7 linked regions of the Homo sapiens genome follow. The protein of the gene in region 4 purifies or fractionates together with the protein of the main gene of each other region. This does not show direct contact. Each region holds a gene or a part of one and is shown on either strand. Other genes may lie near its edges. The genes, in order: DNASE1L2, ACP3, PLCD1, FBXL4, TRIM29, CUL1 and SELENBP1.

Region 1 (4,712 bases), on a different chromosome or scaffold from region 4:
AGGTGGGAGGGGGAGGGGAGGGGGCCGGGGCTTGCCTAGCCCTGACCGAGTCCCCACCCACAGGGGGCTGCCTGCTGGAGGTGGAGGAGTTGCTGGTGTCTGAGGACAGCCCCGCGGCAGCCACCACCGTCCTCACGGAAGACCCGCACACAGTGTTGGTGGAGTTCTCGTCCGTGGTAGCTGACACCCAGGAGTATATCATCGAGGTGGGTGTGGGGCCCTGGGGCCGTGCTGGGACCCAGGGGCAGCCAAGGCTGACCTCTGTCCTTCTGCCCATCTGCCCAGGCCACTGCGGACGATGCGGAGACCAGTGAGGCCACGGAGATCATCGAGGGCACCCAGACAGAGGTGAGGGGTAGGGCAGGCGGGGGCGGGGAGGCTCCCTGGCACAGCCGCTCTTGCTGAGCCGTGGCCCTGCAGGTGGACAGCCACATCATGAAGGTGGTGCAGCAGATCGTGCACCAGGCTAGCGCCGGCCACCAGATCATCGTGCAGAACGTCACCATGGACGAGGAGACGGCGCTGGGCCCAGAGGCGGCTGCCGCCGACACCATCACCATCGCCACCCCCGAGAGCCTGACAGAGCAGGTGGCCATGACGCTGGCCTCGGCCATCAGCGAGGGCACTGTGCTTGCCGCCCGGGCAGGGACAAGTGGCACTGAACAGGCCACTGTGACCATGGTGTCATCAGAGGACATCGAGATCCTGGAGCATGCAGGCGAGCTGGTCATCGCCTCGCCGGAGGGCCAGCTGGAGGTGCAGACGGTCATCGTCTAGCATGAGGTCTGCGGGGTCCTGGCCGGGCAGGGACAGGGCAGAGGACTCTGAGCGCCCCACCCATGCCTGCCTGGCCTGGTAGAGAAGATGGCACAGGATGGAGGCGCCCCAAGACGGACAGTGTACATAAGAGTTTCTTGTTGCTTTACAATAAAACATGAGAACCTGCAGCTTGTGATGTTGTGGCAGTGGCAGCCTCCGCGGCTGGTGCCACCACCTTTGCCCAGGCCCCCGCAGCAGCACCTGCCTCCCAGGCCACTCCTAGACTCACGTGCCTGGCCGCCCCACCCAGGGGCTTCTGCCAGCCCTGGCGGCGCCTTGGTGCTGTGTGGGTGTCATTGGCATGTTGACCAACAGCCTCCTGCCCTGCCCAGCTGGAGCTGTGCCCCCAGCTGCGCTGCCTGAGGCCTGTGGGTGGGTGGGAGGACCAGGGACGGGGACAGGGAGATCTGGGAGCCTCGGCCTCCACCGCAGGGTGAGCAGGTGGAGCAGCAGCAGGAGATGCTGGGTAGGGAGTGTGGCTGGTCCTACCTGCGCTGCCTTGCTTTCCCTGAAGGGATTCTGCTCAGGGAGGCAGAGTCTAGGCGACCTAATTTCTAGGGGCGAGGACAAGAACACAGCCGCACCGGGATGTGGCTGACCGTCTACCTCCCTCCTAGGGGGCTGGCAGGGGCTTCTGGGACGGTTTTGGGACAGGTCTGGGGCACCAGAACCGGCTCAGGCAGGTCTCCCACCCCTTACCCTGGGGGTCTCCATGGGAATGAAAGCCAGGAGTTCATCAGGCACCCAGCTGAGTCGAGGGGGCGGGACCCAGTGCAGCCCGGCCCCTCCCTGGCCCAGGACCTCAAATACCGGCCCCTGCCTTGGTGCCAGAGCTACTGCCAGAGGGAGTCAGTGCAGTCCTGTGTCGGACACGCCCGCAGCCTGGACCCGGGATCCCCATCCCCCTAGGATCTCTGAGCCTCGGGCCTCTGCACCCACATCCAAGGTGAGTCTCTCGGCTGCCCTGAGCTGGGGCTGGATGGGCCGGACCCTCCATTCCGGCTGCAGCTTCCCGCGCAGTGAGAAGGCAGCGGTCCCTGAGAGCCCAGCAGTGCCCTGGGAGCCTGCAGAACGCAGGGGCGGATTCCGCGTCGCACTGGCCGTCAAGGGGCGGCCGCGGAGGGAAGGGGTGGGTCGGTGGGTCTGACAGCGGGTCTGCGTAGGCGGCAGCGTCTGTCCCTCCCAGCCTCTCGCTCCGCGCCATGGGCGGGCCCCGGGCTCTGCTGGCCGCACTCTGGGCGCTGGAAGCCGCCGGGACCGCCGCGCTTCGCATCGGAGCCTTCAACATTCAGAGCTTCGGTGACAGCAAAGTGTCGGACCCCGCTTGCGGCAGCATCATCGCGAAGGTGGGGCCCGGGCCGGGGCGGGGCGGCGTTTAGGGGTGCTGACCGCGCTGACCCCCGCACCCGCCGCTCCTCCCCAGATCCTGGCTGGCTATGACCTCGCGCTGGTGCAGGAGGTGCGAGACCCAGACCTCAGCGCCGTGTCCGCGCTCATGGAGCAGATCAACAGGTGTGGTGGGCAGGGCCCCTCGTCGCGACCCCCCGCCGGGATCTCGCCCCGGCGCGGCGCCCCGACCCTGAGCGGGCCCCTGTCTCCGCAGCGTGTCCGAGCACGAGTACAGCTTTGTGAGCAGCCAGCCCCTGGGCCGGGACCAGTACAAGGAGATGTACCTGTTCGTGTACAGGTGAGGGGCGGGCCGCAGGGAGGGGCGCGCGGGGCCGCAGGTCGGGGGCTCAGCGGGTCCTCCCCATCTCCTAGGAAAGACGCGGTGTCGGTCGTGGACACCTACCTGTACCCAGACCCCGAGGACGTCTTCAGCCGCGAGCCCTTCGTGGTCAAGTTCTCGGCCCCCGGCACCGGTGAGCGGGCCCCGCCCCTCCCCTCCCGCCGAGCTCTGACGCCCCCACCCCTTCCCGCAGCAGCACAGAACCTGGTGCTGATCCCGCTGCACGCGGCGCCGCATCAAGCCGTGGCGGAGATCGACGCGCTCTACGACGTGTACCTGGACGTGATCGACAAGTGGGGCACCGACGTAAGCCCACCCCTCGGTCCCGGGGTCCCTGCAGGCGCGCCCCGGGGGTCTGGTTCATGAGGGCGGGACCTCGACGGCTCCTGCGGCGGCTCAGACACGGCTCCGCGGCGCCCGCAGGACATGCTGTTCCTGGGCGACTTCAACGCCGACTGCAGCTATGTGCGGGCGCAGGACTGGGCCGCCATCCGTCTGAGGAGCAGTGAGGTCTTCAAGTGGCTCATCCCTGACAGCGCCGACACCACGGTGGGCAACTCAGACTGCGCCTACGACCGCATTGTGGCCTGTGGCGCCCGCCTGCGCCGGAGCCTGAAGCCCCAGTCGGCCACCGTGCACGACTTCCAGGAGGAATTCGGCCTGGACCAGACTCAGGCGAGTGGGCCGTGGGGCGGTGCTGGTCTTGGGTCCCCACCGCCCGGGCGCACGCAGGCAGCAGGGAGGGTCCAGCGCCCAAGGCAGGGCCACCTCAGCTTCCTCCCTGCACCAGGGCTCGTTTCCAAGGACCCTGGAGAGCCCGGCCCACCCCATGTGGAGCTCTGGGCAGGCAGGGTACCTTGCCTTTCCCTCAAAGGGCCAGTGGTGACACCCTCTGCCCCGGCCCCTGCCCCTGCCCCACCGCAGGCAGCAGCAGGGGTGGGCACCCAGGCCTCACCGGCCCCTCCCATCCCTGTGGGTGGGGTGCACTTTTCCCCTGAGGCTCACTCTGTCCCCACAGGCTCTTGCCATCAGCGACCACTTTCCAGTGGAGGTGACCCTCAAGTTCCACCGATGACTCGAGGCCTGGCTGGGGCATGCCACCTGCAGACCCTGGCTCTGAGGAATGGCCCAACAGTGGCCCCTTCAGGGTGGCAGCCACCCTTCAGTGAGGCCCCAAGGCAGAGTCGGCTGGGCGTGGACCAGGGGCCATGGACACGTGATGTGCTGCTCTGTACCTCCGTTCCCCATCTGTGGGACGGGCTGCATCCAGCGACCTCATGGGGTGTTGTGAGCCCCATGAGGGGTGCAGGGGGCACTGCCCGGCAGATGTCTGCTCAATAAATGAGCTGCTCCCGGTCGGGCCCCACAGCTTGGCTCCCAGGCCTCTGTCCTTCCTTAGGACCCAGCCTCAGCTCCTTAGGGGCAGCCATGGCCTGGGCTGCCCACCCCATGTCCTGGTGGGACGTGGCTGCCCCCGGAGCCTGCTGGCCCCAGAAGGCAGCTCAGGGATGCTCCTTGCTCATCCTCTGTGGAAACTACAAACACTCCCAGGAGCCTGTACTGTGAGCACAGCTGGGACAGGGATGGCGCCAACACACCAGCCTCCTGGGCCCTCGGGGCTCTCAGAACAGCTCTCCCCAGGCCCACCCCGCAGCCCCCATTCCAGGGCCCTGCAGGGGCCCCCAGGCACTTGTCTGTCTCAAGAGCCCGGTCTTACCCAGCACTGCAAGGGGAGGCCAGCCCCAGCTAGTCAGCAGCCCTGGAGCTTTTGGAGAGCCTGAGAGCAGTGGGCGGGCTGGACTCCTCCCTGCCCAGGCAGGTGGCTTGGGACTAAGGTCCCGTGCAAAGAACCGCCCAGCTCGCCGTGGCTCAGCCCTTCAAGGCTGCTGCCCTGTGCCTGGGCAAGGACACATTAGGATAGGGAAAAGGCAGGCCCACGGGTCCACTGGGTCACTGACTGGGGCCCGATGAGGTTTCTGGTTTTTGAAACATCACATCTTAGCAAGATGTGGTAACTTGGTCTGAATCGCATGGGAGGAAAAACCTTTGTTTCAAGGGTTTGGATGAGTTTGGTTCTTGCAAAATCCTTCTTAAGGGACATTTGGATCCCTGGCAGCACAGCTGCCTCCAGAGTCCCACTCCCGCTGGCTCAGGATCCCCCAGT
Region 2 (4,019 bases), on a different chromosome or scaffold from region 4:
CGGTATATTATTCCTTTCCCACCTTGTCCCTATCGTAGATGGGAAGTGATTATAGTGGTGGTCAAGCAAATGACAAGTGTGACAAGCAAATGACAAGTGGGACCAAGCAGCAGCCACCGTAACAACCTCCTCTCTGGCTCCCAAAGCTCTAGTAAGGCTCTGGATTAAAGACAAACTTGAATGCTGCATTTCCAAAGCATGGTGCTCTACTACATGCATCTGAATCACTTGGGAGACTTGTTAAAATGCAGATGTCAGGGCCCCACTCAGGAACTAATGAGCTGGAATCTCTGATGGAGATGCTGAGGAATCTGCATTTCAACATGCACCGCTGGATAATTTTGTTTCTGATGCACGGTAATGGTTGTGGACCACTGAGCTAATGCAGTGCATCTCAGTGATTACTGTCCATCAGAAGCTTGTTAAAAAATATTCTTGAGCACCACCCCCAAAGGTTCTGGTTCAGTAGGTCAAGGGTGGGGCCCAAGAATTTGATTTCTATAATGCTTTTAAGTGAAGCCAATACAGACCACACTTAGAGTAACATGTTCTAATTTTTTTATGAACCAGGAATTAATAAACTGGGCAGATAGTAAAGCATTGCCCACAGAGGTTGAAAGAGACTTTCAGATTCATCGAGTCTAATCTCATCAGATGGTTGAGCTTCTTCCACAAAATCCCCACCAAGTGGGTCTCTTTGAATGCTCTACCAACAAGGATCCCACTACATCAGAGATGAACCATTTACTTAAATCAGATCAATCACCCAACTATCAACTAAGCACTTACTATGTGCAAGTCTCTATGTTAAGTGCTAATGAAGATAAATGAGTTTTCTCAGGGAGTCAGGGAACTGTAACTAAAGAGTACAGCTCTTTTGTTTTCACTTAAATATGTGTCATTATTGTGGAACTATTAAACCACACCATTGTTCATTCTACACACATAATGAAAAAAAAAATCAACAAATTTTTATGATAGTGTGATTCATAGAACTTACTTTCATTAATTTTTGCTTTTATTTTTTTCCCATAGCTGGGCATGGAGCAGCATTATGAACTTGGAGAGTATATAAGAAAGAGATATAGAAAATTCTTGAATGAGTCCTATAAACATGAACAGGCAAGTTGGGGAGCCAAGAGTGGGAACTTTGATCTTTGAAATAATTAAAATAATTCTGCATATATAAAAGTGCTTTGCCTGTTTTCCAAGGAACTTATACAAGTCAGAGGTCTTGTTTACAAATATATTCCTCTTTATGCAAATTTTTGTTCCAAAAAGTTTGTGAATATGAGTAATTTCAAGATTTTATGAACACCTGAATAAATACTTTGGCTTGACAAGTAGCCACTGCTTAATTGATCTCATTTGTCAATTCAACTATTGGCCAACCAGGTTGCTTTGTACCATGATCATAATATTGCTCATTCCTTAACAAGTATTATGATTCTGATGTTAGCACAATGTCTGTAATATTTCACTGTGGGTGTCCTTTCCTTTCTCTAATACCTTGGCAGCTCTGTAGAAAAAAACCTCATGCTCCCTTTACGTTCGCTTCTGCTTTGATTTTCCTACTCTAGGTTTATATTCGAAGCACAGACGTTGACCGGACTTTGATGAGTGCTATGACAAACCTGGCAGCCCTGTTTCCCCCAGAAGGTGTCAGCATCTGGAATCCTATCCTACTCTGGCAGCCCATCCCGGTGCACACAGTTCCTCTTTCTGAAGATCAGGTCAGTATACTGGGAAAACCAGGAGATTTCAGATGGACCTAGAATGAGGAAGGCAGGCTACTCAACAGTTGTGGATTTGGGAGTCTGGACACTCCTTGAGCTGTGCAGTTTTAATTCTTTCTTAAATAAAGATACAAAGGACAATTTAGGACATGGAAAACCCTAGCTAAGAGAGAGTAGGAACCAAATTTCTCTTTGGATCTGTATGATCCACTTTGTTTTGCCACTCTTGCAACTCTTGGCAATTTGCCCCCTCATCGTCATACACAGAGAGAGAGAGAGAGGGAGAGGGAGATAGACAAGTCCCCCAGTGTTCTGCCTTAATTCCCAGGCTTTTGGTGCCCCAAACAGGTTTCTCCACTCTCCAGATTATCCAAAGATATTTATACCACCAAACACTCCTCCACTCATGAAAATCCACATTCCTAGGTAGAGAAAAAAAGATTTGAGTGCATAATCATTGCCTAACATTTTATGTGAATCATTGTGTTACCTTTCATAACAACTCTGAATGGACAATATTCTTGCTCTCCTTTTATAGTGAGGGAAATAAGTGCTTGGAGAGGTTAAATAACAAACAAATTGGTCCAAAGCAACACTGCTGGCAAGCATCACTCTGGGATTAAAACTAGGCCTATTTCATTCCAGAGCAATTTTCTTCCCTATAAAATCATGATTCTCAGACTTAGCTGCATATTAGGATCACGTGGTTTTTTAAAAAAAATCCTGATGCCCAGGGCACTCTCCGTAAGAAATCGGAATGTCTGAGGGTGGACCCAGGCATCAGTGTTTGAAAAATAATCTCCCTCGATGATTCCAGTGGGGAGGCAAGTTTGAGAACCAGTACTATAAACTAAGCTGCCTGAATGGGGCTGTTTGAGAGAAACTCTCAAACGTGTTTACACAGGTTGGGACCGACCAAGCTTTCTTTAATCTTTTCAGAGGAATGGGTATTTTTAAAGTAGCAATAGATAAATCTAACTAATCTTCCAGGTGTGAAACTTAAGGCTATATGAAAGAAATAGTTTGGGACAAAGAATCCCTTCCTAATTTCCCTGCAGTCCCATCATAGGCATGACCATCGCATCTCTTTATGGCTGAAGCTTAGCCTGACTGCTGGACCCAGACTTTTGCCCAGTGACCTCTGGGGTAGGTTACTATCCTCTTTGTCCTGCCAGTACCCCTAGAAATTTGACTTAATTGCTGCATCTAGGGACTTAGGGATTTTTCCCAAATGCTGTGTAGAAAGTCACTGGAGTTAAATCTACTCCAACCATTTTTCTGCTGTTTCTTGAAAAGACAGGATGATTCATTTACATCTCTTTTCCTTCACAGAATCATGAGGGAAGTATTGTGATTACCAGTGTTAAGCATTTGTGAATATTTTATTCCAAAAAGAAAAAAAATCACTTTACCAGCCTTTTCTGCAGAGATAAAGACTGGAGGTCAGGTGCGGTGGCTCATGCCTGTAATCCCAGCACTTTGGAAGGCTGAGGCGGGCAGATCACCTGAGGTCAGGAGTTCGAGACCAGCCTGGCTAACATGGTGAAACCCCATTTCTACTAAAAATACAAATATTAGCTGGGCATGGTGGTGCACGCCTGTAATCCCAGCTACTCAGGAGGCTGAGGCAGGAGAATCACTTAAACCTGGGAGGTGGAGGTTGCAGTGAGCCAAGATCGCACCGTTGCACTCCAGCTTGGGCAACAAGAGCGAAATTCCGTCTCAAAAATAAATAAAAAACAAAACAAAACAAAGACTGGATAGCAGCACCAAAATTTAGCAAAATGTAGACCACAACAGCTATTTAACAATTAATCCTGAATGATAGTAATTAAGTTACACAGAAAGAGAATGCAGGTGCTAGTAGAAGAGGAGGAAAGAAACAGGGAGAGTGAGGGAGAGAAAGAGAGAAGCAAGGAACATTATCTACCTATGGCTTCCATCTATCTGATTCACTAAGGTCAAAAAAATTCTCTCATATCAACTAAGAAATCTAATGAAACCAATCAACACTAGCTTATTCCTAGCATTTAGCTGTGCTGAATGCTGTAGAGAAATAGGAGGCGAAGTTTTTCTAATTTATAGTTTGATGAAAGCAAATTAGCATGTGTGAAATGTGTAGAAGACATTATAAGATGGCGGGCAATAATTTCAAGTACAAGCCACATATGCTGGGTGAAGTCAGAGAATGAGACTTACGTGCAGTTACCACAGGGCCGTCGTTCAGGTCTTCATAAAGAGAGTGAGAACTTGAACCAGACCTCAGAGGAGAGGGAGGAAGGA
Region 3 (4,610 bases), on a different chromosome or scaffold from region 4:
AGAGGAGGGGGGCTTGAGGAGGCCTGATTTGCTGAGTACAGGGGCTTGCAGGCTCCAGGAGTATCAGAGGTGCAAGTGGTAGGCTCCAAGGCCTGAGGAGGCCTCCAGAGGGCAGAGAAGGGGACCCTTCTTCCCCACTCATCCCCTGTATGGAGGTCCAGAGTGATGCCTGCCAGTATGAATTTGCTCATCCCTCAGCAAACATGGAGTGTGGCCCTGGGCAGAAGGGAAACCAAGGAAGGAACTGACAGGCCTGCCCAGGGCAGGGGTGTTCGCACTGCAGGACAGGATTGGAGCTGAGTGCCAGGTAAGGGGTGAAGCCCCGTCTGTGGAGAGGGGGCATGCAGAGCAGGGGGCTCTCCAAAGCCCAGAAGTCCTGATCCACTTTTAACCCCCAGAACCAGAAGACTGTCCTTCAGCTGTTTCACATCCCTTATTCAAGGCCACCTAGGGCCCAGAAGAGGAGGGATTGGGGTGAGCCCAGCCCCCTCCCCGCAGAGCTGGTCCAACTAGCTTTGCCTGACTCTCACATTGGCCTTATCAGCCCAGGAGGCCTGGGTGGCTTCCTGGGAGGCCCTCTGGGGGCTCTCTGACACCAAGAGCCCAGTTTTCCCAAGGGACTCTCCAAAGGGGTGGTGGGCAACAGGATCTAGGGACCCTCCCAGGGTCTGTGGTGGGAGGGGTCTCTGGGCAACCTATAAAGGGGGTTTTCTGGGTCCCAAGAGTTAGGGGGTGGGTCTGCATAGGGACCTTGCCCAGACAGCCCCTTGGGAGGCCACCTGAAGAAGGGACCCTGGGGATCCTCCCCCTCGGCTGCATGGATCGCTGGGGTTTTGGGATATGAGTGGCTCAAAAGTGAAATCCGTGCACCTGCTTGCTTCCCCCTCCCACACCCCCAACACTCCACCAAAGGCACTCTTGGGGTTAGAAACCTCCCAGCGAGAGGGAAGGGGACCCTCCTCCCGACAAGGTCCAGGTATTGCTCTCTGAAGACCTTCTAATCGTGTCCGTGCACCCATTTCGCAGAAGGGAATGCGAACGCTGGGAGCTGCGGCTGGAAGCCTGGACGCCGCGTCTCCCTAGCGCAGCAGCCCGGCTGGGCGTCGGACCTTACACGATCCCTTCCCCGGGATGACGCCGGATTCTTTCCAGCATCACCCCGACCCCAGCGAGGCGCCCACAACAGGGCGTGGGGCCCGGCCGCCCGCGGTAATGACAGGGCCCGCGGCCCGTGGGTGGCGGCGGCGGAGGAAGCTGGAGGAATCTGGCTATTTCTGGTCGGGGCGCGCCCGCTGGCCCGGGCCAGGGTTGGCCAGTCCTCCGGGCCCCCAGCTCTGCCCTCCCTCTCGCGTCCCCAGAAGGGGGCGGGGAGAGACGAGGGTTGGCGGGCTCAGGGGGCGGGGGCGCAGGGCAGCGGGGGCGGGGCGGTGTCCCGGGACCACCCCCGGCCTCCTCCCACCGCGGTCCATTCAGGTCCCTGCACCGCACTCCGCTCGGACCCCAGGCCGCCGGTGCTGTCGCTACTCAAGTGAGTCCCGCGGTGCCCCTCCCGCCGCGCCGCCCGTCGGGCATGGACTCGGGCCGGGACTTCCTGACCCTGCACGGTGAGTGCCTGGCCCGCGCGAGCGGGAGACCCTGCAGGGGTGGACCCCTGGAAAGCTGTTCCGGGCCCTGGACAGGGAGCCCCCAGCTCCTTCGGCCGCCTCCACACCACCCCGGGCCCGCCTCTCTGCCCCTTCTCCGGACTGGGAAAATCTCAGCCCGCGGCTCCCTGGGTGGGACTGCCGGGCACGACCCTGGGCGTTTCCAGGCTTGTCCGAGATCTAGCCCGGGGGGTGGGTGGGCGGGCGGTACGGGTCTAAAGACTTCCCTCCGCCTCGCGGACCCCCTTGTCCTGGTCATGAAAGTCTGGGCTCCACGATCCCGCTCGCACGGAGGGGCGGCGAAGGAAGGAAACAGCATCCAAGAACGACCAAAATTCTCCTTGCCCCATCCGGGCCGCCCCAGAGGCTCCCCAAAGCCTGGGCGTGCCTGGACCGCGTCAGGCCGCGCGGGTGTGGCGGAGCAGGGGCTAAGCGGGTGGGGAGAGGAGGTGTGCAAGGTTAACCGTGGTCGGGCCGTGCAGCCTTAACTGCCCAGCGCAGAATAGTCAGCGATGCTCAGGCTGAAAGAAGCAGCACGATCCCCTCATCTGCGACCCTCCTCGGGGGACAGGGCCAGGTCTCAGCCGGAGCTGCCTGCTCCATCCTTTGTCCAGCGGAGCTTTGTTTCCTCCAATATGAGCCAGCTCTTTGCCCTTTCGCTGTCCCTCCAGCAGCGAGGGGAGCCTGGGCTCCCGAAGGCAGATCTGGAGGCCTTCTGGGAGGCGGGAGGTTGGGGAGGGTAACTTTGGGCGCCTCTTTGCTCCAGGACAGGCACTCACTCACTCTTGGTGGGGGCTTGCCCTCCTGCCCTCCCAGGTCACTTGCCATCTCAGCAAACCCTGCTCCTTTCATACCAATCACTGCTTTACTGTATATCCCTCTCTTTTTTAGTACCCTTGGGGTTGGAGGCTTTAGTGGCCACCACCCATCCATCTAAACTGTTCATGGACATAATAGATGGGAAAGAGAAGGGCAGAGTCCTCTAGCCTTCCACTAGAGTCCCCCTGGAATTTAGAGGGACTTAGAGATGTTCCCATCAGCCAGCCTCCAGTCTATCTCGTGTTCTGCAGTTGGCACAGACCTGGTCCTCCTGGCCCAGAGAGACCTTGCTCTGTGCCCAGAGCTGTTGCTTTTACACCAATAGCCTAGGCTCCTTAAAGCCACCTTGTCTAGATGAGTCATGGAGTCCCTGCCCCTTCCAGTGCTCCCTCTTCTTTCTTCAGGCCAGAGGTGTCTTTCGTGCGCCTGCCAGACTAGCAAGAAGGGAGGCTGGGCAGCTGAGAGGACACAGTGGACATCTCTGCTTTCTCTCTGACACAGCGTCATTCCTTGGCTCCTGTTGGAACAGGCTTCATCCTCAGTGTCTGTGCCTTTGTCCAGTTTCTCTCCTGAGGCAGCCTTGATATCTTTTCCATGGAGGAAGACACATGGAGGCTCAGTCAGGACCTCCCAGTCCTGTGGCATAGGCTTGGCTGCCCTGGCCCACCCCATTTGAGACCAGCCTCCCAAATGCCTAACTCAGTCCAGCCTTTCCTGAAGGGTTGACATGAACACTGTGACCCCAAGCTGTTTTCCCTGAAGGCCCTGCCACTTCTAGCTCATCACCCAAAATTACCTCAACTGCCTTCTGTCCACACTGCAAACCAGATGGGGAAATAAGAACCTGTCAAGGAGAATTGTTGGTGGGAGGGGGTGATCACTGTGCCCTGTGCTGTTCCAGGTTGTCTACACTTGCATTGGAGAGTCTGCATCCGTTTCACAGTGTGGGTGCCCCAGCACTGGATGTGCTGCAGGACCACACTCTCTGGCCTAGGGCTCCACACTCTCTGGAAGGAGCCCAGAGGGACTCCTTCTGTTGGCCTGGGGAGCTATGCGGCTCACCTAGATGTGACATGTCCCTTCTGTCCTCACCCCAGATGCATGCAGAAGTAATGTAGTTTACTGGCATAGATTCTGAAAGCAAAGTACCTGAGTTCAAGTCTTGGCTTTCTCATCTCAGATGAATCCCTTGACTTCCCTGTGTGTCAGTTTCCTCATCTGTAAAATGGGGGATAATACCATCTACCTCATAGGGTTGCTACGAAGATTGAATGAGATAATATCTACACAGCAGTTAGAACAGTGCCTGGTACCCAGTGAGTACTATGTTCCTGCAGGAGGCCCCCTCCCCAAATTTCTATGCCCTATGAGTTGCCATCTGTAGTTCTTTGGGAGATGATGGGGGCATCATAAGGTAGTTCCTAGTCATGGAAAATAGGGCCAGAACTAGATTCAAGAGCGAGCCAGCCAGCTCTTTCTAGTGCCTCTGAAGCCCTCAGACTGATGCGACAGCATCCATCCTCCTTCCTTCACCTTACTTCTTCCACTCTTTATTCTGGCTATGCCTGGACTGGCTTCTCTAGCAGGTCCCCCGATGTGCCCCAAAGGACATTACCTCCCAGGGCCCTCCCCTCACTGAACACCCCCCACATACACACTAACTTTTCCTACACCCAATCCCTTTTGCCCCCACCCCTGCAAGAGGTGCCGTTTGTAAAAACAGAAAATAGAGGGGCCTCATCTTGGCCCCAGTAGACCTGGGCTCCAGTCCTAGCTTTGGTTCTACTTACTGTGGGTCTGAGAATCATCCATGGGATAGCAGTACATATTTCACAGTGGGTGTTGTGAACATAAACGCCAATGGGCATAGAAATTCTAGGTTGCCCCAAAAACCAGTCCTCCAAGAGATGATGATTCCAGAGCTCTTAGCAAGTTGGGGTGGCCAGCTCCTCACTCACCTGTGTTCCAAAGCAGTCTGCCCCTGGGCTTCCAGGCCCATGCTACACAGGCACACACTGATCCACACCAATCTTAACTTTTTGTGCCACAGACCACTTTGGCAGTCAGGTGAAGCCTGTAGACCCCTTCTCAGGATTATGTTTTTATTTATTTATTTGTTTATTTATTTATGAGACAGAATCTCACTGT
Region 4 (4,019 bases):
GTAGAACAATATTATGTGCTACTTATGGATACATAATGTATTGGAAAATTATATATTTTCAAGCATGTTTTAAACACCGAGTCATGATAAAGTTTACCTCTGAGGAAGTATGTGAATGGATGGAGCCATACAACAATGTAGCCAGATAAGCAAAGAATGTCAAAATGTTAAGAGTTGACAAAACTGAGTGGTGGCTACATGGGTGTTATATTGGAACCTATACTTGTTTGTGTATTTGAGATTCTTCATAGTAAGTAATTTAAAAATAAATTACCAAACAAGTTGTGTGAATTATATGTATGTGTGTATTTATCTCTATGTATGTGTATTTTTTAATTTAAAATTTCTTACCAACAAGAATTTATGAGATTCTTTCTAAAAATTCTAATATTCTCTGGATCTTACTTAAGGGAAAATCTTATAAAACAACCTTTTAATATGGATATGGTCCTGTAATTAAAAAAAAAACAAACCTAATGTTATGTTCCTGTCTGTTAATTAGTTAACATGGCTAAGTATTGTGAAGAACCTGAAAATTAAATTATCTTAATATACCCTTTCTAATGTTAACATTCTGAGAGCTACATGGGATTGTTTTATAAATGTTGTTATGTTGAAACTTAAGTATAAAATCAATATAAACTTTTTTTGTTTAAATTCAAAGAAATGCTCAATAATGAAATAATTAGACTTAAGTATAATAGTCCTCTGTGGCCTATTGTAACTATTATTATTTTTGCTTTAAGTAACCTTACATTTGAGAAATATTTTATTACTTTATTTTCTCAATGAGAATCTTTATCTGGGATTTGACCAAATGTTTTACATTTTCATTGACACATTCTTCACCTTTCCCTCAACTGATAGTTTTTAGTTTCTGATCACTTGGAACAGATTTTTACAGAAGTTGTATAATATCTTAATTTTTAAATATATTTAAAAATGTATAAGATATTTTGCCATGTAAGTTTGAATAGTTTTCTCCTTAATTGATAAAAGAAAAATTAGAAATTTGAATATTTTGCATTATTTTGTTTTTCACAATTTTTCATAGCAGACTTTTTTAAAAAAATATTTTAGGGTGCCATGATTATGTAGCAGTCTTTGGGTTTCTTTAGTGGTGAGACCATTTTCATTGCACAGGATAGATGGGCTTAAATGGCAGGAACATGACTAGAAAGTACATATTATATATATTTCAGTCAGCATGTTGCTACTGACAGGTGCTCAATGGTTGTTGGTATCCTTGTCAGCAAAGAGAATCCTTTGACATTAAAGTCACCAGCTCAATCCTGATTTGGGGTGACTCTATTGGCAGTTCCATCAAGCTGCAGCTGATCAGTGAATGTCAGAGCTGCAGCCATTCTTCAGGAGTGTCACCAGCCTGCTGCGGGTTTTTTGTCTTTTTGTTTTTGTTTTTGGAGGGAGGAGTGGTTTAGCTTGTCTTGTTGTTCAATTGTAGCCAGACTTTCAAATTGCTTACCTTTGGGAAATGAACCGAGAGGTCATAGGGAATATAGGTATCTTTAGGGCATCCAAAACCATACACAAAGTGATTACTTACATGGAGACTAGTAATGATTACCTTGACTCCAAGCCAATCAATGGTGGAGCCTCTGGGGACTCATTAAATGGCATTTGTGGACTCTGTAACCTAGCTTTTGAGCTGCATTTCAGGAAAAGCAGTGACAGCCTTTAATGTCTAATTGACCTCTTCTCTTTGTTTCACTTTCATTCACTTTCCATATTTGCCTCTGATGTGGTCCCTAATGGCAGCAAACAGCACTGCTCAGCATTTTGAACTTCTGTTCAGAGCTTCAGCACCTCAGTTTAGGCAGTTGTGTCATGGTAAGTGTTTGAGAATTCTTTATACTACTCAATTACTTGTTCTCTTTTTCTTCCTATGGGTGAAATGTATCCTGACTCACCCTACCCCACACACACCCACAGTTTTTCAGATTTATGGTTCTCTTCTTTGTCCCTTGCTTTCAAACATTTTTCTTAAATTGGAAAGTATGTCTTTGAAACACTGACATTATTTATCCATGAGAGCAAGGAAAGAAGTATAGTGTGGTGGAATAGAGTATAGTTCTGCCTCAAGCCAGATGTTGTCTCCGACAAGCTAATCACCTCTCTAGGTTTCTTCACAAACTAAGGTGTTAGTCATACCTAAATGCCGATAGTTCAGTAAGTTTTTCACTAAGCTCATTTTAGCTTTTAAATCCTGAGATACTTTTCTTGAAATTTTAATGATAATAGATAGGTTTATTTTATCTGTTTGTTTTTGTGTTTGTTTTACTGTCCTTACTGGTCAAAACAGAAAGATTAACACCCTATGTTGGAACTCTTTTTTGTGTGTGGAAATTTTACTGGTCTGTGAAATATAAAAGCCTAGGGACTGTTGGACTAGATAAGCTTCAAAGTCCTTCCAGATTTTTTTTTTTTTTTTTTTTTTTTTGAGATGGAGTCTTGCTCTGTTGCCCGGGCTGGAGTGCAGCGGCGCGATCTTGACTCACTGCAATCTCCGTCTCCCGGATTCAAGCAATTCTCCTGCCTCAACCTCCCAAGTAGCTGGGATTACAGGGATGTACCACTATGCCCGGCTAATTTTTTTGTATTTTTAGTAGAGATGGGGTTTCACCCTATTGGTCAGGCTGGTCTTGGGTTTCACCATATTGGGCAGGCTGGTCTTGGGTTTCACCATATTGGGTAGGCTGGTCTTGAACTCCTGACCTTGTGATCCGCCCGCCTCGGCCTCCCAAATTGCCGGGATTACAGGTGTGAGCCACTGCGCCCAGCCTAGTCCTTCCAGATTTAAAATACGATTTTATGTGCCCTTGAAAGAGCTCATGGAAAGAGTTAAATGTTTTAATCTAAACCACATAATTATATAGCTTTTAAATAATACTGAGATATAAAGGACAATAGAAATCTTGTGTGGAGAAGGTGTGCATGTGTGTGTTTGTGTGCACACATACCGTAAGTGAATCTTCCAGTGTAACTGACTGGAAGAATTCATTCCTCCTCACTTCATCCCCTGTTCCCTAAAACAATGTAGGTTTAGGAGATCCCCAGACCATTCCATTTCTGCCTTGCATTCACTTAGTAGGAAGACTTGAATTAGCAAAATGATTGCAAGATTCTAGAAAACTTCTGGTATGCTAGGGAGTATTTGCTTTAAGTAACCTTACATTTTGAGAAATATTTTATTAGAGTCAATAGACAGGGTCCCTGACCTAAAATGAGTACCATTTGAACACCTCTTAGAGCTCAGTGTGGCTTCAGAAATGCCTCAAGATTTGGCAGTGTAGACTAAGTAGGCCTCTTTTGATGACATATTTATCTCTGTGTCCCCATGGTCTTTAAAATCTTGTGGTTAGGTCTTATTAAACCCTAAGTATGGGCTCAGGCCATCTCAGTCTCTAGAAACAGTCTTGGGAGCCCACTAGATTTTCCTCACTTCTGGTCAAATTCTTTCCATAGTAAGCCATTTGATAGGCTTCTGTGGGTCTCTTCAGTGACTCTTCTTGATGGACCCGATGACATTTGATGGCAGTTTCTGTCACAACAAACCAGCCAGTTACTGCCACTTGGATCTTCCTTATTGCTAGCCTGCTCTCTTTAGATTGGTAAGGACCATTTAACTTTGCTTAGATGTACCTTATTCTGCTTGTTATTTACCTCCCCTTAAACTGGAGCAACATTCCTTAGAAAATCAAGCCTCTGGCCATAGACTCTTTACTGTTGGAATTATATATATGCTTATAATTGAAATTGTATTATTTTAAGTTAGCATTTTCCAGAGTTGACCCATGGAAAATTACCTCTAAAGGATAATCAATTTTAAAGGCTGTGTATTTGGGGGTGGAGTGGAGATTCCTAATGAAATTAGGAAGCCAGGTATGGTTGCTCAAACCTATAGTCCCAACTACTCTGGAGGCTGATGTAGGAGGATTGCTTGAGCCCAGGAGTTTGAGGCTGCAGTGAGCTATGGTTATACCACCGCACTCCAGCCTGGT
Region 5 (4,770 bases), on a different chromosome or scaffold from region 4:
GAAAGGGGAGGGGCATGTCCCAATCCAGCAGGCCAGGACAGGACTTCCTTCTCTCCTTCTCCCTCCGTACCTCAGGCAAGAGCCCAGAGAAATTGGGCCTGGCATTTTGAGTAAGTGTCCCCCTCCCCAGAAGGCCCAACAAGCTCTTAGCCAATTCACCAGTGAGTTCAAACAAGAGGGGGCTCCTTTGGGGCCCACAGACAGAGACCTCAGGCAAGAGGAGAATCCCCGTCATGAAGCCAGCACTCCCCACGCCAACACCACCTCACATACATCCTCTCATAAGTGAACTGCTTTGTGAGGTGGGCTTGTCTCTGCCCTTGTTCCCAGGGGCTGTTTTTGCAAAGGATTAGCTGCTCAGCCTGGTGAGGCAAAGGGGCGGGGGCTTCCTAGCTTGACATGGATTGGAGGGGAAGGAAGGGAAACCCATTCCCCTCCACACAGCCCAGAACCTGCCACGCCAGCCTCACCTACTGTCTGCTCTGCCCTGCCCAGCCTGGCCTTGGAGAGGCACGGCCCTTTCCTTAGGGGTTTGGAGGCTTCCTAGGACCAGGTCAATGGGTCAGAGCCCAGAAGTGGCTGGGGGGCATGTCCTACAAGAGCTAAGGGTCCTGGTGTTCCGCAGGGGCCACGGAGAGGAAGGGGATGAAGTTTGTTTTTCTCACTTTTCTTCCTGAGGTCTGTATTTATATGATAGTCATATTTGAACAGGTGACTTCTGAGATTATCTGAATCTCACACTTTGCTGACCTCTTTTTGGAGGGCATTGCCTGTGGCCTGGCCCAGAGAGGATGGGCAGGTGTTTTCTGAGTCACACAGCAGACCAAGTGTGGAGACAGGTGAGAGTCAAGTGTTTGGGCCCTGAGGACCCAACCACCTGGGCTGGCATTGCTTGGATTCCCCTCATTGTTGTGCCTTGGTCATTTGAATCCACGCAGGTAGCAATAATCTAAGGTCTATATGTATCTTGTTGGGGCCATTGGGATAGGACAGACTCTCAGAAGCCATCTTCTGATGAGATATTCAGGTGACTCCATGACCACCCAGCTGAAGAAGGGACTTTGGCTTCTCAAAGGCTTAGGGTTCAAATCCCAGCTCGGCCACTTGACTTAGGCCAGTGAGTTATCTTCTTAAAGCCTGTTTTCTCATCTGTTAAAAAGGGGTAATTGAACAGGTTTTAGGGAAGCCTGAATGAGCTCGTAATATATGCAATACCTAGGAAAGTGCCTGGAGGTTGGCAAGTAGGGTTCAATACTCAGTAGCCAAATCAAATGGAACCCATCCTTCCCCCTTAAGGTGAAAAGCAGCGATACAGTCCCAGGGTGGACAATCTTTCCTCTGAAACTCAGGCCTGCAAATTACAAGGCTATTTGGCTTGTGTGACCCAGTTAACAGCCCTGTGTCTGGTAGGCCTCTGCAGACACCTCACCTTCTGCCCCAGGGGCCTCTGGGCTCAGTGAAGCCTGCCCACTTGTGAAGACGGAGACTCCCCGCTCCCCGGATGAGAAGCAAGTGCGTCAGAGGGAAGCAGCCCAACTGGTTGCTGAGTTGTGGAAAATAAGCTGGGGGAGAAAAAACACTTCTTTTAAAAATCAGGTTAGGGATGAATGTGCAGGGCGTGGTTCCTGTGCAATTATCTGCTCTGCTGGCTGCGGGGCTCCCTGCTTCTCCCGGGCCGCTGTGTCAGGCTTGTGCCTGTTGCTCCTCCCCTCCACTCCTCCCCCTCCTCCTCCTCCGCCTCCTCCCCCTCCTCCTCCTCACAGGTGTGTCTCTAGTCCTCGTGGTTGCCTGCCCCACTCCCTGCCGAGACGCCTGCCAGAAAGGTCACCTATCCTGAACCCCAGCAAGCCTGAAACAGCTCAGCCAAGCACCCTGCGATGGAAGCTGCAGATGCCTCCAGGAGCAACGGGTCGAGCCCAGAAGCCAGGGATGCCCGGAGCCCGTCGGGCCCCAGTGGCAGCCTGGAGAATGGCACCAAGGCTGACGGCAAGGATGCCAAGACCACCAACGGGCACGGCGGGGAGGCAGCTGAGGGCAAGAGCCTGGGCAGCGCCCTGAAGCCAGGGGAAGGTAGGAGCGCCCTGTTCGCGGGCAATGAGTGGCGGCGACCCATCATCCAGTTTGTCGAGTCCGGGGACGACAAGAACTCCAACTACTTCAGCATGGACTCTATGGAAGGCAAGAGGTCGCCGTACGCAGGGCTCCAGCTGGGGGCTGCCAAGAAGCCACCCGTTACCTTTGCCGAAAAGGGCGAGCTGCGCAAGTCCATTTTCTCGGAGTCCCGGAAGCCCACGGTGTCCATCATGGAGCCCGGGGAGACCCGGCGGAACAGCTACCCCCGGGCCGACACGGGCCTTTTTTCACGGTCCAAGTCCGGCTCCGAGGAGGTGCTGTGCGACTCCTGCATCGGCAACAAGCAGAAGGCGGTCAAGTCCTGCCTGGTGTGCCAGGCCTCCTTCTGCGAGCTGCATCTCAAGCCCCACCTGGAGGGCGCCGCCTTCCGAGACCACCAGCTGCTCGAGCCCATCCGGGACTTTGAGGCCCGCAAGTGTCCCGTGCATGGCAAGACGATGGAGCTCTTCTGCCAGACCGACCAGACCTGCATCTGCTACCTTTGCATGTTCCAGGAGCACAAGAATCATAGCACCGTGACAGTGGAGGAGGCCAAGGCCGAGAAGGAGGTAAGTGCTGGGGCCCCTCCTGCCCCTCCAGGCCTCTCCTCTCTCACCCCACCCCTCCGAACTTCATCTTCTCCACTCGGGCTTCCTCGGGTTTGGGGCTTAAGTTTCTACTGTCCTTGGCTCTTTTAGAAAACATTTATTTCCCCTCATGCCCCCTGTCCCCCCTAATCCCAGCTGGGGATCAGAGGTTGCTCCCCAATCCCCTAAGGTCTCAGGAGACAGGGACATTTTCTAGATGAGCGGATGGAGACTCAGAAAAGGTTGAGGGCCTGACCAAAGTCATAGGATAAATTCGAGTCAGGTTAGAGAGTATGACCCAACTGCATAGACCTCACTTCTGGGCTCTGTGCCTGGCTGAGGTGTTTCTTTCTTCTTCTTCTCCTTCTCCCTCTTCCTCTTCTTCCTCCTCTTCTTCTTCTTTTATTTTTTTTTTTTTTTGCTTTGAAGAAGAGATAATTCCTCCAACCTGAGTCGGACTGGCCCCTGGGGAATGGGTTGTGGGTGAGGAAAGATACTAGAAGGAGAGAATTTTGGGGCCCACTGAAAGGTCCTTCTTGCTGTCTTTGTAGTTTTTATTGTCGTACAGTGGCTTCTTGTTCTAGCTGATCCCCAGCTGGTCTCTTGACTTCCTCCACAGCCTCCTTTATCCTTCTCCCAGCTGGGCCCTGTGTTTTGCGTGTGTGGTTGTGTGTGGACACACATATTCCTGCAGGCGGACACCGTTGGGGAAGTTTGGAGTTTGTGTGTGGATGGCGTGTACGTGTACAGCTAGTCCCTGACTTAGGATGGTTTGATTTACAATGATGTGAAAGTGCTATGCTTTCAGTACAGTATTCCATAAAATCCAACACTTTATTACAAAATAGGCTTTGTAGTAGAAGATTTTGCCAAACTGTCGGCTAATGTAAGTGCTCTGAACAAGTTTAAGGTAAGCTAGGTTAAGCTATGATGCTTGGTAGGCTAGGTGTATTAAAAGCATTTTTGACCTATCACATTTTCAACTTACAATGGGTTTATTGGTAAATAACCCCATCACAAGTTGAGGAGCATCTGTATATGTGTTTATTTTATGTGCACGTGGGTGTTTTTGTGCCTTTGTGGATGTTTGCATGTATTCATATATGTGATACGTAAGTGTGTTTGCATGAGTTCTATGTGACTGTGCCTGTACTTCTATGGGGAGGAGCAGAGGCAAGTGCAGGCTTGTGGATGTAGCATACCTGGGGAAGGTGATTTGGGCAAAGGGCCCAGCTGTGGCCACTGCCCTTTGCCCCACAGATGTGGGGCTCACTCTTCCCTAAGGTACACAGCTTCCTGCTGTGGGTGGCCTTCCTGGGGCAAACCTTCCTGGCCTCCAAAGCAGTGAACTCCACTTTCCTGAAGAGCTTCTGCACACCTCAGATCTGGACAGCAGAGGATTCCTTCCTGCCCAGCCTTCCTGACCAGGAGGAGCTGGTTGATTACTCTTTCCCTTCATCTCTCACCCACACCCCTGGACAGAAAGGGCTGAGGTAGAGAGGGGAACAGACTCACAGATTCCTTCCAGAAGCCTCGTTTGGCCCAGGAAGAAGATGTTTCCAGCTTCCCCCATCTTCTGACCCCAGCGTGGCCTCAGGTTTCATACTGAGAGATATAGATGGGACGGGGCCATGAAACTCATTCTAGGGAGTTTACTTGGGAGGTTAGACAGAACAAGAGGCAATCATCCTCATCACAGCAGCTGAGAAATTGCAGAGCCTCAGACAAGGTTTTAGGAAATGTGACCGAGTTCCAGTCCCAGTTTTTGCCTCTAACTAACTGTAAGGCTGTGAATAAGTCCTTTCCACGCTCAGTCTCATTCTCCCAAGGGGTGAGGCTAGATTGTTGGTTTTCAAATTACCCCACAGAGCCCTGGAATTCTTAGACATGTCTTCGAGGCCTCAGGATGAGGAGGGGGTAAAGAAGTGTCAAGAAGGCGGAGCATTCAGGTTCCCACCTCGACTACAAGCAAAGGACATTCTTATTGATTATCTTCTATGTGGGTTTGGCCTCAAATTTGGTCTCAACCAAGGATATCTCTGCTTAAGCCTGGGCACCCCTGGAAGATGTG
Region 6 (4,019 bases), on a different chromosome or scaffold from region 4:
GGAAAATTCAGAGGCTACCATCAATTATTTAAGAAGTGTATGCTAAATAGTACAAATGAGGAATACTGTTGTAATTATGAGAAAACCGTTGCACAGAAACGTGTCACCTAATGCTGGGAGGGGGCACCTTTGCTATGTCGAAATTAATTAAATGCTAACTAAAATAGTTACGTGTGCCTAATAGGCATCCGAAAGTCAGAACGGGGGAAAAAGGCTGACAGCTCAGACCTCCTTTTCTCAAGGCAGGAAGGAGGCTTTGGTGAGACTGGAAGGAAAGGTTTGGAATCCTAGATGATGTCAATAAACCAGACTCTTTGATCCCAAGTGGAATTCAGGGAATAGACATGAAGACTAGGCCATTTCCCCCTCCCCAAACTTCAAGCTTATCTATAGGAACTTGGAGACTTTGGTGTGGGGGATGGTGGAGAAGAAAAATTCCAGACTGATTCTTCTGACTTCTCTCATTTTAAATACGTAAAATCTTTAAAACGTTTGCTTGCCATTTTATCTTACATGCAATAATAACCCTTAGTCTAGGTTGAGCATCCCTAATTTGAAAATCCTAAATCCTCCAGAATCTAAAACTTCCTTAGTTACCAACACGATGTGACAAGTGGATCATTTCACCCCGACCTCATGTGATGGGCCACGGTCAACATGCAGGTGCACAACAGTTTATTCAGTGTCCCCAAGGGGAAAGTAAAATTACCTTCAGGCTGTGTGTATAAGGTCTATATGAAACATGTGAATTCCCCGTTTAGATTTGGATCCCATCCGCAAGATACCTCAAATATTCCAAAATATGAAACAGTCTGAAATTCAAAAGACTTCTGGACCCAAGCATTTCAGATAAAGGATACTCAATTTGTGTTCAGTGCTTGGTATGAGCCAAAGACTGTGCCGAGCTTGCTTTGTGACTCCCTAGCTGCTTGCCCTCAGCTTTCTGCTGCTTGGAGATACCTCAAATGGGACAGAAGGCTGTCTAATGCAGTCCTGGTTGAGGATGGACTTTGACACACAGCATGGGAATATATTACATCAATCATAAAGTAGAGACTACTGAAATGAGAGGGTCTCCTATTTGATGTGTTGATGAAAGGCTACTTGGGCATCTGTGTAGAGTAGGTCCTACCAACAAGGGACTCAAAACACACAAAGGGAAGAAGGGTTAGGAATGCTGAAGACACATACTGAAATTGGCTCTTCAGTAGTGCCTTTGTTACATGTTCTATATATAGGGGACTTTGCCCTATACAGGGTATGTGTGTTGGGGGTGGGGGCGGCGGGGGGCGGGGTGGGTGTTTAATGTCTGCAGTTTAGCTGGGGCTTTACAGGTGAAACGTACTGTATGTGTTCTCTCGACATTATGAAGATTTTGTTTGTTTTGGTCACTGGTATTTTTATAATGGAGCTCTGCCTTACTACTCTACTTGTTTTACTGCATTTTCAGGATTTTTATTTAGGCCAATATTTGGCTGTCTGTGTTCTGTGATATGTAAGGTATGGGAATAGGAGGGAAGATCTGTGAATAAACGTAGGAAATGCCAGGTGGCATATTGAAGGGCCTTTAAAATCTTAATTTGTTTTGCTGCTGTTACAGGGAGATATATCTTATAGGGTATGTATATATGTATACATACCTACATTCATATATATTAAAAGGTCCACTCCTAATTTAATAAGAAATTACCTTTGAAGGAAGAAAACTCCCCTACCATATTAACATGTTTTGTAGAACACATACTGATTTTAAAATCATCGAATGTGGAAAATTAGGTCTTTACAGTAGAGATTTGATATGGAGTGAATTGATGTGTTCATTTTTTTCTCTTGGAACGAGCACCTGGAAATATTCGTGGTTCTTTGTAGCACAGTGTGGGAAGTGCCATAGAGGCCAGGATCCTAATGAGTATGGTTATAAGTTTAGTGTCTAGAAATAATTTTTGCTTCACCCTAGTCCTTGTTTAAATCCTAAATACTATCAGAGGAATTATATTAAAAAAATTTTAAAGCATATGGGAGACAACACAATCAAAGCCTGTGTCATTTACATGTTATTGGTGGTGTCATGTTGAGATCACTTTTTATTTTTTTAAATAATAATTTTTTTTTTAAGTTTCAGGGTACCACAGGTTCGTTACATAGGTAAACGTGTGCCATGGTGGTTTGCTGCACCGATCAACCCATCACCTAGGTATTAAGCCCTGCATACATTAGCTGTTTTCCCTGGTGTTGGTCCCCACACCTTCCCTGACAGGCCCCAGTGAGTGTTGTGCCCTTCCCGGTGTCCATGGAGAACACTTTTTAAACCTGTAAAATAATGGTTTAACTACAAAGTTGTTTCACATTTTTTCTTTAAAAATCTAAAACTTCCTGGGTTTTAAAAGCATCTCAATACTTCTCTTGAAGGCACTCTTAGATTTGTACTTGATTCATTAGATTGGTTCTCTTGCATTTCCAATTCATGGTTTCCAGAGGGTGAACGCTGTTCTCAGGATGTCTTGCGTTAGAGGAGTTTAGGAAGCATCACCAGGTCTGTTCTCCAGTGTCCCCTTCTGAGTAGGGGCCACATCGCTCATTTCCCAGACTTGTGGACCAGGTTACCTTTCTTTTTTCTTGGGTGACCTCCTGAGGTTAGGGTTCTGTGCAGAATACTTGCTGTTCCAGTTCATCTTATCTTTTCTAACTCTTCATGAGCATTCAGGAGATAGCTTTAACTTGATCCTCTCTTCTAGTCTTTTTTGCTTTGTGGTTTCTCAGTTTTTTCAGGTTAAGCAATTCTCAGCAACTTCAGCTGAGAGCCTTGCAGTCCTGCTAATAGCCTTCAGGGCTTTTGCATTTGACTAACCTGGCCTTTCTTCCAACTTGGCTTGCCCCAAACTGATCTCTTTTTTGCTCCCTAGACCATATCCGACATCTCTATTTCTAGCGTTGTGTCAGAGACACAGATTTCAGACTTGACTTCTTTTGTTTGTCCATATTCAGTGATCTACCAAATCTTACTAGTTCCTCCCCCATAACACTATGTGTTTATACCTTCCTCTTTGGCCCCGCTGTCACCAGCTTCATTCTGCCCTCACGCCTGGCGATGCAGTGCGCTGCTGATTGCTGCTTCATTCAGGACTTGCCTGGCTTCCTTGATTACAGAGGCTCTCCAGGGCAGGTATTGGGCTGCTAGCATTTGATAGAGTGGGCTCTGCTCTTTGTCTTTGCAGCCCTTTGCCACAACCATCCTATCTCATCTTCATAAGCTTAAAAAAATCCTGAAAATCTAGCTGTGTGTATCATGCTAACATGCTTTTTAAAAAAACTGGCTCTGCTGCAATTTTCACTTGAAAGTAGCTGGATGTTGGTTCTGGGTATTTGTCTCTATCTCAGCTCTTCAAACTGGGAATGTGATTTCTAGTAACAACATTTAGCAAAATTTCAACAAAGCAACCAATTTGCGGAAGTTGTGTTAACTTTGAGGTTTTGCCATAATAAATTATAAATGTTGGAATTTTTCTATTGATAAGGCTAACTTGTGGAAAACTGATTAAATAATTCACTGATTATAACCAGCAAACCATATATTACACTAAAGTTTTGTTTCAAAAATATGGATATTGTGGAAGATGAGTATCCACATAGCTTTTTATGGTAAACATAGGTGAGCGTGTATGTGTAACTAGGATAGTGATTCCCTTAATAGTTATAGGAAAAGTGATTCTAAAAAGCATTCTGACGCCTCTCTTGGCGGCAGTGAATGAAACTACAGTTTCACATTAAAAAGAGTACTTTCCCCGCCAAAAATGCAGAGGAGGATTTGTTTTACTGACAATTGAGTACAGGCCAAACTGCGTATATGCGCATACATACTCTGGGCTTTGTGTGTGTGATTTGGCAAAAAGAAAAATAGTCCTAAAGTGTGCATCTCTTTATTCCATTGTATTTATATTTTTCAGAAGTTTATTTATTTGCAGTTTTGATGTGTACATTTTATTTTAGAAAATTGAATGAAGTTTGTGAGATTCAAGTCC
Region 7 (3,470 bases), on a different chromosome or scaffold from region 4:
CAAGTGATCCGCCCGCCTCAGCCTCTCAAAGGGCTGGGATTACTGGCATGAGCCACTCTTCCCCCAGCCCTGGATGCCTGAATTTAAGGAACTGGCAAATCCAGCAGTGGAGGTAGAGGCAATGGGCTTACAGCCTCTTAGACATGCCTCGGGGAGAGGGCTGGAGGGTGGGGTTAGTGTCTCTACTGCTTCTACCTGCCACCCTGCTTCCTTCCCTGTTCAGGGGGTTTTGTGCTGCTGGATGGGGAGACGTTCGAGGTGAAGGGGACATGGGAGAGACCTGGGGGTGCTGCACCGTTGGGCTATGACTTCTGGTACCAGCCTCGACACAATGTCATGATCAGCACTGAGTGGGCAGCTCCCAATGTCTTACGAGATGGCTTCAACCCCGCTGATGTGGAGGCTGGTGAGAATCCCCCCATGTGCCAGCAGGAGCCTTGGGCCTACATCCCCTTGCTTTCTGCTCCAAATCTCCCACCCCCACACTTCCCTCCTGTGGCCCCAGAATCTAAGAGAGATGGCATAGGATGTACCGCATGCTCAGATTGCTCAAGCGTCTTCCTGATCCCTCCAATCCATTTCTTAACCTTCTGCCCTGATTGGTGGCCCAGTCTTTGCCCATGCCTTCCAACCTCTGATGCTGAGCCTATCCTCCGGCCCCACTCCCACCCCAGGACTGTACGGGAGCCACTTATATGTATGGGACTGGCAGCGCCATGAGATTGTGCAGACCCTGTCTCTAAAAGATGGGCTTATTCCCTTGGAGATCCGCTTCCTGCACAACCCAGACGCTGCCCAAGGCTTTGTGGGCTGCGCACTCAGCTCCACCATCCAGCGCTTCTACAAGAACGAGGTGACATACGCCCTCTGGCCCTCCCCTCCCAGTAGTCTTGTCAGCAGCTCTACCTAAGCAGGCTTCTGTAACGGTGCTCCCAGGCGTCTCCAGGAACGAAAAAAATGAGGCTGCATGCCCTGTCTCTCTTCTCTCAGTGCTAGGGCAACTTCTGCCTGAACCCTAACTGGCCGTATTTATCCATTCATTCAAAAACTACTTAGTGAATGTCTGTGCTAGGCACTGTGCTATGTTCTGGGAATGCAGTGGTGAAGCAGACACAACCCCTGCCTCAAGGGGCTTGCATGGAGTTAGATCCTGCTGGCAAGAAGGCCGGGCATCTATTCTCTCCCTCCCAGGTCTGGGCAACCCAGATCTAACCCCTAGTCCCCAATTCTGATAGGCTGACCTCTCTGCCAGCTAACCTCACCCTCCACCCCTCAATGTAGGGAGGTACATGGTCAGTGGAGAAGGTGATCCAGGTGCCCCCCAAGAAAGTGAAGGGCTGGCTGCTGCCCGAAATGCCAGGTGAGTGCCTAGGGCATAGGAAAGTTGATTCTTGGCCTGGGAAACAAGAGTCCTTAAAGGCTCTACTCGCCCCCTGCCCACAGGCCTGATCACCGACATCCTGCTCTCCCTGGACGACCGCTTCCTCTACTTCAGCAACTGGCTGCATGGGGACCTGAGGCAGTATGACATCTCTGACCCACAGAGACCCCGCCTCACAGGACAGGTGGAGACCCTGGCAGGAGGAGCAGAAGGGAAGGAAGGAAAGAGAAGAGAAGCTGGGGATGGGGTGGATGATCTGAAGCAGCTGCAGGATGTTGAGGGAGGTGCAGGAAAAGCAGACATGTGTGCTGTGGGACAGCACAGGCCCAGGACTGTCCAGGCCAGGGATGGGCATGCAGAGCATGTCTGAAAGGAGAGAGGGGTTCCAGCCAGGCAAGCTGCTCTTCCTGCAATGTTTGCGCCTCCCACTATGGTCCTCCTTATACTCTGCACCTCCCCATCTAGCTCTTCCTCGGAGGCAGCATTGTTAAGGGAGGCCCTGTGCAAGTGCTGGAGGACGAGGAACTAAAGTCCCAGCCAGAGCCCCTAGTGGTCAAGGTAAGAGCCTCTCCCCCTACTTGCTGGACCCCTCAGACCCATGCTTGAGGAATATGTGGGGGAGCAGCTGAGCATACTCTTGGGGTTGGGGTGGTGCCTAGGATCTGTGTGTTACCCTGGGCTCTGACCCCTGGTTTTCCCAAGGGAAAACGGGTGGCTGGAGGCCCTCAGATGATCCAGCTCAGCCTGGATGGGAAGCGCCTCTACATCACCACGTCGCTGTACAGTGCCTGGGACAAGCAGTTTTACCCTGATCTCATCAGGTGAGAAGCAGACACATGGGCTCTCCTCCCCAGCCCTCCTCTTCCAGAGGGGTCATTTGGCTTTCTGAAGACTCCTCAAGGAGACCCCTGTACCCCACCACACAGATGGCCCATTGAGACCCTGGTCATTCCTCCTTCCTCAGGAGCTTTCCCCTAAAATCTTAGGGGAAGGGGGCAGCCACCTCTGACCTCTCCCTTACCCCATTCCCTTTTCCACCAGGGAAGGCTCTGTGATGCTGCAGGTTGATGTAGACACAGTAAAAGGAGGGCTGAAGTTGAACCCCAACTTCCTGGTGGACTTCGGGAAGGAGCCCCTTGGCCCAGCCCTTGCCCATGAGCTCCGCTACCCTGGGGGCGATTGTAGCTCTGACATCTGGATTTGAACTCCACCCTCATCACCCACACTCCCTATTTTGGGCCCTCACTTCCTTGGGGACCTGGCTTCATTCTGCTCTCTCTTGGCACCCGACCCTTGGCAGCATGTACCACACAGCCAAGCTGAGACTGTGGCAATGTGTTGAGTCATATACATTTACTGACCACTGTTGCTTGTTGCTCACTGTGCTGCTTTTCCATGAGCTCTTGGAGGCACCAAGAAATAAACTCGTAACCCTGTCCTTCAGATGGCCTTGTCTTTGGGGGCCCAGGGCCTGTGTCTCTTCTTCTGCCTACCCTTTGTATCATGCACAAGAAAGGGCTAAAGAGGCCTCCAGTGGGGGTTATGGTAACTAGTTCACACCAGTGATTCCAACATGATGCTAATAATGCCCAAATCTCAATTTTATGGCCAGACAAAATCTGAAAATTTTGGGGGTGATCGTCACAAGGAGACCTGGGGGTAGAGAATGTAAATCGGTGTTTCTAAAGTTTTGGTTTTTTTTTAACCCATGCTTTCTTTTAATGAACCTAAAAATCTCACCCATCACTCTCAAGAGAATGTAACATGCTCCCTCACACACAGGAGACCCCAGGATCCCTGTTGTGTATAGTGTAATATATTTCCACTGATGGCAAGACGACTGGGAGAACGCAGCTGTTGGGAGGTTTATCAGGCTGCTCTTGCATTGCTATAAATGCCTGAGACTGGGTAATTTATAAAGAAAAGAGGTTTAATTGGCTCATGGTTCTGCAGGCTCTACAGGAAGCATGACACTGGCATCTGCCCGGCTTCTCAGGAGGCCTCAGGAAACTTACAATCATGGCAGATGGTGAAGGAGGAGCACAAACATCACACGGCCAGAGTAGGAGCAAGAGAGAGAGAGCAAGGG

Evidence for each region.
Region 1: the proteins of FBXL4 (region 4) and DNASE1L2 purify together in Homo sapiens (affinity purification with mass spectrometry; 2 studies listed by BioGRID and IntAct, with this or other methods). This does not show direct contact.
Region 2: the proteins of FBXL4 (region 4) and ACP3 purify together in Homo sapiens (affinity purification with mass spectrometry; 2 studies listed by BioGRID and IntAct, with this or other methods). This does not show direct contact.
Region 3: the proteins of FBXL4 (region 4) and PLCD1 purify together in Homo sapiens (affinity purification with mass spectrometry; 2 studies listed by BioGRID and IntAct, with this or other methods). This does not show direct contact.
Region 5: the proteins of FBXL4 (region 4) and TRIM29 purify together in Homo sapiens (affinity purification with mass spectrometry; 2 studies listed by BioGRID and IntAct, with this or other methods). This does not show direct contact.
Region 6: the proteins of FBXL4 (region 4) and CUL1 purify together in Homo sapiens (affinity purification with western blotting; 4 studies listed by BioGRID, with this or other methods). This does not show direct contact.
Region 7: the proteins of FBXL4 (region 4) and SELENBP1 purify together in Homo sapiens (affinity purification with mass spectrometry; 2 studies listed by BioGRID and IntAct, with this or other methods). This does not show direct contact.

What each region holds. Positions count from the first base shown.
Region 1 is NC_000016.10:2,234,796-2,239,507, forward strand, and holds DNASE1L2 (deoxyribonuclease-1-like 2 precursor), read left to right. Parts: upstream 1-1,648; 5' UTR 1,649-1,765; exon of another isoform or gene 1,766-1,982; 5' UTR 1,983-2,021; coding exon 2,022-2,165; intron 2,166-2,242; coding exon 2,243-2,331; intron 2,332-2,422; coding exon 2,423-2,506; intron 2,507-2,580; coding exon 2,581-2,854; intron 2,855-2,971; coding exon 2,972-3,223; intron 3,224-3,566; coding exon 3,567-3,623; 3' UTR 3,624-3,916; downstream 3,917-4,712. Other genes in the region: transcription factor E4F1, read left to right, coding at 64-206, 286-348, 421-777. UniProt on the Homo sapiens protein: Divalent cation-dependent acid DNA endonuclease involved in the breakdown of the nucleus during corneocyte formation of epidermal keratinocytes.
Region 2 is NC_000003.12:132,330,612-132,334,630, forward strand, and holds part of ACP3 (prostatic acid phosphatase isoform PAP precursor), read left to right. Parts: intron 1-1,035; coding exon 1,036-1,122; intron 1,123-1,580; coding exon 1,581-1,733; intron 1,734-4,019. UniProt on the Homo sapiens protein: A non-specific tyrosine phosphatase that dephosphorylates a diverse number of substrates under acidic conditions (pH 4-6) including alkyl, aryl, and acyl orthophosphate monoesters and phosphorylated proteins.
Region 3 is NC_000003.12:38,026,500-38,031,109, reverse strand, and holds the start of PLCD1 (1-phosphatidylinositol 4,5-bisphosphate phosphodiesterase delta-1), read left to right. Parts: upstream 1-1,467; 5' UTR 1,468-1,570; coding exon 1,571-1,604; intron 1,605-4,610. UniProt on the Homo sapiens protein: The production of the second messenger molecules diacylglycerol (DAG) and inositol 1,4,5-trisphosphate (IP3) is mediated by activated phosphatidylinositol-specific phospholipase C enzymes. Essential for trophoblast and placental development.
Region 4 is NC_000006.12:98,878,382-98,882,400, reverse strand, and holds part of FBXL4 (F-box/LRR-repeat protein 4), read left to right. Parts: intron 1-1,776; coding exon 1,777-1,848; intron 1,849-4,019. UniProt on the Homo sapiens protein: Substrate-recognition component of the mitochondria-localized SCF-FBXL4 ubiquitin E3 ligase complex that plays a role in the restriction of mitophagy by controlling the degradation of BNIP3 and NIX mitophagy receptors.
Region 5 is NC_000011.10:120,135,139-120,139,908, reverse strand, and holds the start of TRIM29 (tripartite motif-containing protein 29), read left to right. Parts: upstream 1-1,795; 5' UTR 1,796-1,877; coding exon 1,878-2,681; intron 2,682-4,770.
Region 6 is NC_000007.14:148,705,403-148,709,421, forward strand, and holds part of CUL1 (cullin-1), read left to right. Parts: intron 1-4,019. UniProt on the Homo sapiens protein: Core component of multiple cullin-RING-based SCF (SKP1-CUL1-F-box protein) E3 ubiquitin-protein ligase complexes, which mediate the ubiquitination of proteins involved in cell cycle progression, signal transduction and transcription.
Region 7 is NC_000001.11:151,363,658-151,367,127, reverse strand, and holds the end of SELENBP1 (methanethiol oxidase), read left to right. Parts: exon of another isoform or gene 1-112; intron 113-223; coding exon 224-406; intron 407-674; coding exon 675-853; intron 854-1,281; coding exon 1,282-1,360; intron 1,361-1,443; coding exon 1,444-1,565; intron 1,566-1,846; coding exon 1,847-1,939; intron 1,940-2,083; coding exon 2,084-2,202; intron 2,203-2,422; coding exon 2,423-2,585; 3' UTR 2,586-2,824; downstream 2,825-3,470. UniProt on the Homo sapiens protein: Catalyzes the oxidation of methanethiol, an organosulfur compound known to be produced in substantial amounts by gut bacteria. Selenium-binding protein which may be involved in the sensing of reactive xenobiotics in the cytoplasm.